Linked DNA regions of Homo sapiens. The protein of the gene in region 1 purifies or fractionates together with the protein of each later gene. This does not show direct contact. Each region holds a gene or a part of one and is shown on either strand. Other genes may lie near its edges.

Region 1 (4,473 bases):
GGTTAATTACCAGAGCCAGGGAAATGAAAACCAGAGTCCAACTGCTTTCGAGGTCTACCATTCCCCACCACCAAAGCACCTACAATGTGCAATGTTTAAGAGCCTGGGCTCTGGCAGGGCACAGTGGCTCACGGCTGTAATCCCAGCACTTTGGGAGGCCGAGGAGGGTGGATCATGAGGTCAGGAGTTCGAGACCAGGCTGGCCACCATGGTGAAACCCCATCTGTACTAAAAATACAAAAATTAGCCAAGCGCGGTGGCGGGCGCCTGTGATCCCAGCTACTCGGGAGGCTGAGGCAGAATTGCTTGAACTCGGGAGGTGGAGGTTGCGGTGAGCAGAGATCGCACCACTGCACTGTAGCTGGGGCGACAGAGCAAGACTCTGTCTCAAAAAAAAAAAAAAAAAAAAAAAAGAAAGGAAAAAAAAGCCGGGGCTCTGGGGTCAGCTGTCTGGGTTCGAATCCCTCAATTTATAGGCCGTGAGAACTTGGGCACGTGACTTAACCTTTGAGCCTCAGTTTCCTCCACGACAAAATGTGGAAATGAGACCTACAACGAATTATGTCTGTACATAGCTTATCGGGGGATCTGCTAAGCGTGGAGCTCAATAAATATTCGCTATGGTTGTTGGGAGGGGCTCCCCATAATGAGTGACGGCTCAACAAAGGTGCGATTGGTCCCAGTCCCACCCGAGCCTCCTAAATCGATCCAGGAGGTCCACTCACCTCCCCACGAGCCTCCTCTGTCCCCCCGCGCCGAAAGCCCAGTTCTCTCAAAACTTGGGGGCCCAAGTCACAAACTTTTCTCTTCCAATGGATATAGCAGGAGGCAAACTGGAGACCGGACCCTCAGCGATCTGGCTTCCTCTGCCGGGACAGAAAGCAACTTGATACTCGACCGCTACCCCCACCCCAGAGCTCCCCCACTGCGCTTGCGCACCCCCGCCCCCCAAAAGTGAGGAAGGGCCCGGGCAGTAAGTGCTGCCTCTGGCCCTTTAAGACTTAGGGGAGGGCGTGGGTTCCGCTGGGGTCCTGGGAGGGCAGTTGCGCCTGCGCCTTCTTTTCCCCTCCTCACCGACTCGGAGGGAATGGGCGGGGCCTAAAGGGCTCTGAGAATTTCACTACGCCTGCGCCCGCTCACCTTTACCCTGCCCACAGATTTTTCCAGAGGGAGCCAATTGGCTCCGGCTTCGGGTAGATGGGCGGGGCTATCTCAAGAAGAAGAAGTAGGGGAAGTACGCGGGGCGTCTGGAACTTAAAGGGGCAGCGTACCTTGGCCGTCCCGTTCCACAACAAGGTCCCTTCTGCGGTCTCAAAGGCTTATAAGCAAGGGCGGGGGCAGAGGGCTAAAGAAGGGAGTTTTTGCGGCCCGAGTGGGTAATGCGTGGAGGACTCCCCCAACTCGTCTCTCAAGGAAAAGGGGGTTCAGAAAGGGAGAGAGTTCTTCCCCCTCTCCTGCCTGGGTGTCGCTCCACCAGCCTCCTGGCCGTCGCGCCCCCTCCTCACTGCGCCACCCCCGGGTGTGCCTCCTTCCCTGCGTCTCACACAGCCCCTTTCTTGTCCGCAAAGACTGAGGAGCGGGGAGGGCGGGCCCTCTGACACCGGAACAGGAGCCGTGCGGCGTCCGGTTTCAGCAGGGAAGGCTTAGGCGGGCGTCCCAACCTCCGGGCTTCCGGTGCCGTTTCCCGGTTCGCTCGGCCGCGGTCGCTATGGAGGAGCCGGAGATGCAGCTCAAGGGGAAGAAAGGTGGTGCGGGCCTGCGGGCGGGACAGAGGGGGCCGGTAACTTGTGGAGGGGCGGCCTGACAAAGGCCGGGCGCGGAGGGACCGTGCGAGGAGCAGTGATTGAACTGCCGTCCAATCCCAGCTCTGCCGCTGACTAGTTTTGAAACCTGTAGAAAGGCTCCGTGTCTGCTTTAATTACCGGTCCCCCCAGGATTGTTTCAAGAATTCAGTAGCTGAGGCTGGGAGTGGTGGCTTTGTAATCCCAGCACTTTGGGAGGCCTAGGCGGGAGGATCGCTTGAGCCCGAGACCAGCCTAGGTGACATAGTGAGATCTCGTCTCTAAAAAAATACAAAAATTAGCCGGGCGTGGTGGCGCACGCCTGTGGTCCCAGCTACTTGGGCGGCTAAGGTGGGAGGATTGCTTGAGCCCGGGAGGTCAAGGCTGCACTGCAGTGGGCTACGGTCGTGCCACTGCACCCCCAGCCTGGGTGACAAGTGAGACCCTGTCTAAAAAAAAAAAACTCAACAACCTGATATTTGTAATGCATTGGAAGAATCCCCGGGGCGTAGTAATCGCTGTGCGTCTTGTTTCCTTTTTTTTTTTTTTTTTTGAGACAAGGTATCACACTGTCGCCCAGGCTGGGGTGCGGTGGCGCGATCATGGCTCACTGTAGCCTCGATCTCTCTGGCGCGGGCGATCCTCTTGCCTCAGCTTCTCCAGTAGCTGGGACTACAAGTGCACACCACCACATCAGGCTAATTCTTTAATTTTTTTTTTTTTTGACGGAGTCTCGCTCTGTCACCCAGGCTGGAGTGCCGTGGGGGGATCTCAGCTCACTGCAACCTCAGCCCCCTGAGTAGCTAGGATTACAGGCACACACCCCCATGCCCAGCTAATTTTTTTGTATTTTTAGTAGAGACGGGGTTTCACCTTGTTGCTCAGGCTAGTCTCGAACTCCTGACCTCGAGTGATCCACCCACCTTGGCCTCCCAAAGTGCTGGGATTACAGGTGTGAACCACTGCACCCAGCTAATCCCCTATACTTTAAATCACCCTAGATTACTCACATCTAGAATACATAATACAGGCCTACACATCACTTCATTCACATGGATTCAAAGAAGTGCTTCGTGTAGGGCAGATTGAAGTTTTGCTTTTTGAAACTTTGTGGAATTTTTTTTTTCCTATTTTCCATCCACGGTTGGTTGAATCCACAGATTCGGGAACCATGGATAACGGAGGGCATGAGTATGAGGCATGAGCCACCGTGCCTTGTCTGTTATGCTCACCTTTCTTCTTCTTTTTTTTTATTTGAGACGGAGTTTTGCTCTTGTTGCCAAGGCTGGAGTGCAATGGCGTGATCATGGCTCACGGCAACCTCCGCCTCCCGGGTTCAAGTGTTTCTCCTGCCTCAGCCTCCCGAATAGCTGGGATTACAGGCATGCACCACCATGCCTGGCTAATTTTGTATTTTCAGTAGAAACGGGGTTTCTCCACGTTGGTCAGGCTGGTGTCGAACTCCCAACCTCAGGTGATCCTCCCGCTTCGGCCTCCCAAAGTTCTGGAATTACAGGCGTGGGCCACCGCCCCTGGCCGTTATGCTCACATTCAAAGCGAGGAGGCCTATCTGGTAAGAGGTCACACAGTTTGGAGGTGGCAGGCTGGGCTCTGCCACTCAAGGCACAGTGGTGAGATGGAGAGACTTGTGTTAGCCTCCTTTGACTCCCAGACACGCCTGGGTTCTCTCTCCTGAGCAGTCACCCTGGTGATGGCATTGGATTCATCTCTGTAGCAAACTTTGAGGCTGGTGCTGTTATTCTTTTTTTGTGGATGAGGAAGCTGAGGCTCAGAGAAGCTCTGCTCTCCCAAGTCCAAGCTTTTAACTTTTCCTGTGAACATGTAACCTAATCAGTTGAAATTGGTATTAAGAGAAAGGAACAAAATGCCTGCCAAGGTCCTCCGTGAGGTGGAGGGGTCATCTTTTAAGCTTGGTAGTCAGGGAGGGTCTTGCCCAGGAGGTGACATTTGAGCAGACCTGAGGGATGAAGGAGAGCCAGTGACGGAATGGTGTCTCCAGGTGGGAATACCAAGTGCAAAGGCCTTGAGGTGACCAAGTGTTTAGAGCTCTGCTGTAATGAATAAAGGAGCAACTGGTCACATACGGGCATTTAATTTTTTTTTTTTTGGGACAGAGTCTCACTCTTTTGCCCAGACTGGAGTGCAGTGGTATGATCATGGCTCACTGCAGCCTCCACTTGTCAGACCCAAGCAGTCCTCCCACCTCAGCCTCCTGAGTAGCTGGGACTACAGGTATAGATCACCATGACCAGCTTATTTTTGCAATTTTTTATAGAGGTGGGGTTTCGCCATGTCTCCCAGGCTGGTCTTGAACTCCTAGGCTGAATCCATCCTCCTGCCAAAGTGCTGGGATTACAGGCGTGAGCCACCGCACCCGGCGTTGGTCTCAAATTCTTATCCTCAAGTGATCCTCCTACCTTGTCCTCTCGGGCAGTGAGAAAGTTCTGGGCAGTGCTGGGAGGTCCAAGGAAGAGCCAGGGGTGGAGGGCAAGGAAGGCAGGGAGGTCAAGAGCAGCCAGAACATGCAGGGCAAGAAAGGCGGATTTTATTCTCTGGCAGGTGGGAGCTATGGAAGAGTTTAAAGCAAGGGTGGGAATAGATGATTTGTTCATTTGGAGTTTGCCTCACGTGCTGCATGGAGGTTGAACTGTTGGCAGCAGGGGAAGCAGAG
Region 2 (5,001 bases), on another chromosome or scaffold:
TAATCTTTCAGGATAGAGATGATTCCAATGCCAGTCATCATCCTAAACCATCTCAATCACAGCACTGTACTGCCTAGAGACAATAAGGTTAAAGGTTTAGCTAACCTGTGGTTTTGTTTTTCCTATTTTCCCAACATAAATTATTTAATTGTGCTTTCCTCATTAATACAAATAGAGCATAGAAAAATTTCTGATTATGTTCCAGTAAATCAGGGTTTTACTGTTCATTTAGTATTTAAGAAGGGAACTGATTTAAATGCACCCACATGAATGGTATCCATATGTAACACACCTTTTGTTGTTTGTTTTTTTTTAATAGCCCCACATCTACCAATTTCAGCATCTGGAGCTAAAATCTTATTTAGTGATAGATGGCTATTTCAAAAATGTGGAGCCCTTCCTTTTCTAATTCTTCTAATTTTGGGAACCACCAACTTTCCAGACCAATTCTAATGTTCGCATTTTGCTTTTTGATGGTCTCTCTTCTAGGATTTCCTTTCATGAAACCATGACAATTTTACTTAAACATATGTTTTCTATGCTTTCTTGCATAATAAGGATATACACTGGCAGCAATCACAGGAAAATGTGGCAAATCTTTGTTGCAAAGGTGATTATATACAATGGATTTTGTTTTGTTCAGAGGTATATGAAAAAAATAGAAGGTTGATATACGAGATAATTGGGCCAATAGACACCTATACTGTTAATAAGTATACAGAAAAATTAAATGGAATTTTTCCTCTTTCTCCTATTGCATGAAAGTAGTAGTTCTGGTGTTATCAAGTTAACAAAGCTAGGGTGTCAAACCTTTTTCTTTTTATAATTAAATGATACACATTATTAATTTGCCATCGTGTGAATATTACAGCATAAACAGAGACATAATAAAGGTCTTTGTATTTCTACTGCGACTTACATTTTACGTCATTTTGGCAGAATCCTCTAAACTATATGAGTTAATTTTAAGAAATTTTGTTTTACTAACAAATTGTATCACTATGGAAAGAAGTACTAATAAAATTACATACATTTGTAAAGTGAGGATAATAGTTTTTACCTCGTGGAGTTCTGTTGGACTACTAGAAAAACCATGTGCAGTGCTTAGAACTGTGTCTAGCACACAGTAAGAACCAGTAAATGTCGTTATTGCTATGTATTTTTATCCAAAGATAATGCTTTTCTCCTGTAATTTATGAAAATTACAAAAACTGCAAACCAACTTAGATTAGCAGCTCAAATACAATGTTTGAAAAATGCTCCAATCCAATATTTTTAATATTCTTTTGGGAAAAAAGTGACCTCAGATTTATAAAGAAGGGGCATTCAAGTGAGTCTGACGAGCAAAATGTTAGGTGGAAGTGACCAAAATGATCTCTACCTTTAAACAATTCATTTTGGTTGAAAACATTTTGTAATGATTTGACCACATAACATTTCTAAATAATGATCAAAACATTAGCTGGCCATGAAGTAAACAAAACCTAGTGAAATTGTTCAACATGATACTTTGTGACTAAGCAGTCAGTCATTTTGACCATAAAGGTAGTTGAAGATGAAAACAAAACAAGGGACTTCTGGAGTCCATTAGACTCAAGCTAAAGCAAAACCTAATAACGGGTATAATTGCTAAGCAACAGAGAAAACTGTTCTCTTTCCTTACTGTTAATCTATCATTTCCTTTTCTAACTTACTTCTGAAGATCCACCAACCCACAACAATAAAAATTACAATTACGAACATAACCCCTATCCTTTCTCCATTGTTCACCTCTTACATCAAAAGCATACCTATATATTTTCAATTATTTTAAAAAATTCAAAGCTGACATTTTTTTCATCATCCTCCGAAAATTACAAAGGCTGAATACAATATCCTTCTATAAACTAATGATAGTACACTTAAATAATATGACGGGTAGGTGTCAAATAAAACAGGAGACACCTTCCCATTCAATTACAATATGAACGAACTCCACAAAAAAGGAAAGCTAAAAAGGTTTTCCAATACCAACACGAGAGAAAAATTAGTAACCAGATTAACTAACCCACTTCTCCATTCCTAAAGTGGGATCCTTAGTCTCTGAAAACCTTTAATTATTCTTAAATTCCCTTCGATTAAGAAAAATATCACAGGCACGCAAGCACACCTCAGCAGCCACGGCGCCCAGCAAAACAAACAGTGATGAGGATGAGGATGATACGAGAGGGGTTACACAATCTCTGCTTCAGACTGGGGGGCGTGTCCCCCAAGGTTTTCTCTTCCTTTCTACTGGAACGACAGCTGTAGCGCCACAGGGAGAACCCAGCCACACGGCCTGCAGGGCCCCAGGATTTTGTGTGGGGAGCAGAAAGGAAAGAAGGAAAATCTGAGGTTCCGAAAGGTGCACAAGAAAACGAGCTCGGCGCGGCGTTGGGAGCGAGTGCCGGGGGTTTGGGGATTCGGCGCAGCCGGGTGAGAGCCTCGGCCACCCTGGGGAGTGGAGAAAGCAGCGCTCACCGCCCCGTCCACCCGCTCGGCCCCGGCCCCCCGCACCCCACCCTCGGGGCGACCCGGACGCGCTCGGTGGGCGTCCCAAGGTGCAAACCAGCTGGGGAAGGCGGCGGGTCCTGAGGCTCCCGGGGTCTGGGGCAGGAGGGAAGAATCTTCTGTACCCGTTGTTCTCCGCACAGCAGCAGCTCCGGGTAACTGAACTCCACGCAGCTCTCGTCGGTGGGGTCCTTAAGCACCAGCTCCAGGCGCACCGTCTCCCTCGGCGGCCGCGGCGGCTGCTCAGCCCGGGAAGCCGACTCCCGCGGCGGGGGCGGCTGCAAGGGCAGCGGCGGGAACGGCGGCGGCGGCTCGGGCCGCGGGGGCTCCCGCTGCAGCGACATGGGCGGCTCGGCGCGGCTGACCTCGCGCTGGGGGAGCGGCTTCTCCCGCGACGGGGGCTGCGCGTCCGAGCGGGGGGCAGGCTCCCGCGGGGCCGGCGGCTCCGCCCGGGCCGGCTCGCGGTACGGCTGCGGCTCCAGCCGGGGGGGCTCGCGGGGGTACTCGGGCTCACGCTCGGGCCCCGGGTACTCGGCCTCGCGCCGCCGCACCGGTGACAAGCTAATGAACGCTACTCTGCGCGGCTCCGCCATCCCCACTGTTCTGGCCCTCCGCTTTTGCTCGAGCCGGCGCTCGCTTCTACGGCGCGCTGCGTGCCTGCCCGCCCTTCCTCTTGCTCTCTGTCGCTTTTCTTCCCTCCACCACCCTCAGCCGTCTCCGCCGGCGCCACGGTGAGTGCGGACCGTGTCCCCTTCCCCGCTACTACGTTCTGATGGGCTTCACCGCCATCGCCAGGGTCGCCGCGGCCGCCATGTTGGATCCCCCACATAAATAGAAGCAGGCCGCTGAGCGGGCGCATGCGCACAGAGGAGACGCTCGCGTCCACTGTCGTGGCTGTTGCTCAGTTTTCCTCTTTTCCTCCCAACAGTCTGGAGTCCAGACAGGTCGGCGGAAGTGACGACATGGCTCGGCCTGTTTCCGTGGAAACGGAGACGCCGTCTGCACCCTTCCTCAAAGGGAGGGTTCTGGGGTTTCCCGAGCAGTTTACTATTCGCACCCGGAAACCAGAGGCGCTCCAGGAGCTTCCCGGGGCTAGCATCGGGATGGGACTGAGACCGACCTAGCCATTGGCGCCGGGTCTCCCGTGCTGGGTTCAAGGGAATTGGGGTTGTTAGCTGATTATTCAAGGCGGACTCTGGGCAAGGGTAGAGAGACGCGCCAGCCGTTGTGCCTGCCCGCCCTGTGTCCCCGTAGCCTTAAGTATCGAGGGAAAAAAGGAAGTGCCCAGCTTCAGCCAGACTAGCCCCAGCGGCTTCCCTCCCGAAAGCGCAGGCCTCCCCTTCCTCGACCTACTCCGGTTTCCCTCGCCCGGCCGCAGTGGGCGTTGCGTGGGGCAGGGTCATTAAATGTTCAATAACGCTTTGCAGTTGGAAAATTAACAAGCAGATGAGGAGTTCTGGGCTCATTCAGAAGGCCTAAACTGCTGAAATCATAGAAAACTTCTTAAGAGGGTTTAGTGGTATTTCAGGAAACGTACTGTTTATGAGAATGCTAAAGGACCCATTTCAGGATGGGGAAGGAATTGATTGGGCACGCCCCATAGGCTCACTTGTAATTAATTAATTGGAAGTCGGGTTTAAAAGGATAAGAATTACTGGCCATTTTAATCCATTGAATAAAAAGTAAATTTGAGGGCTCGCCCTTCACATCCTGAAGGGAATCCAAGCCTTCTGTTAATTGCATTAACTATTGAAAGCTCTTTTATTAAGTCAGTGTGACGTCATTGACAAATTCTGAGAGGGTTCCGTTTTTTCCTCTCCTGTTATTACTTTCCCTACTTGGACGAAGATGGTGATGAAATCTATGATTCCAAAGGTCTCTCCCAGCTCTAAAACCCTATCTTTTCTACTCGGCGCCATGTTTTACCTACATTATCTCCTTCCCTATTGCTCCTTTTCTGATTCTGAATTCGGGTCTCATTTTTAGATTGCCTTAGTGATACTTAAATGACCTTTCTGCCTTCAGTCTCTGTTCCCACCAGTCTTGAGACGGGGTCATATTAATGTCTCTAAAAGAGTTTTTATTATATCGTTCTCTGTTCTGGCTGCAACTTACCTACAAACTGAGTTCTATGTATGTATACTCATATTCAATATCCTCCACAATTTAGCTCAGAGACTGCAAACTGGTGGTCTGTGGGCCAAATCCTTCTACAGGTGTGTTACTTATCCAACATTATCTTCTAACTTCTCACCCACTGAGTTTTCCAACTTTTTGATCCATAACCCACAGTAAGACATTTTACACTGTAACCTAGAATATACACCCATATATACATAACACATATGTGCATATGTGAAATATAAGTTTCACAATACTTACCTACTGCTTAGGATAAAGTAAAAGCAACAGACGCAACAGAGTTAATTTAATATAAAATATTTTATAATACAGTGTAGAAAAAAATGTTAA

What was found. The genes of interacting proteins can lie anywhere in the genome.
Region 2: the proteins of BORCS8-MEF2B (region 1) and UBN2 purify together in Homo sapiens (affinity purification with mass spectrometry, with the first as the bait; one large-scale study listed by BioGRID). This does not show direct contact.

Annotation. Positions count from the first base shown.
Region 1 is NC_000019.10:19,189,353-19,193,825, reverse strand, and holds the start of BORCS8-MEF2B (myocyte-specific enhancer factor 2B), read left to right. Parts: upstream 1-1,673; 5' UTR 1,674-1,708; coding exon of another isoform or gene 1,709-1,745; intron 1,746-4,473. Other genes in the region: BORCS8 (BLOC-1-related complex subunit 8), read left to right, coding at 1,709-1,745. UniProt on the Homo sapiens protein: Transcriptional activator which binds specifically to the MEF2 element, 5'-YTA[AT](4)TAR-3', found in numerous muscle-specific genes. Activates transcription via this element. May be involved in muscle-specific and/or growth factor-related transcription.
Region 2 is NC_000007.14:139,229,606-139,234,606, reverse strand, and holds the start of UBN2 (ubinuclein-2), read right to left. Parts: upstream 3,371-5,001; 5' UTR 3,123-3,370; coding exon 2,655-3,122; intron 2,187-2,654; exon of another isoform or gene 2,150-2,186; intron 1-2,149.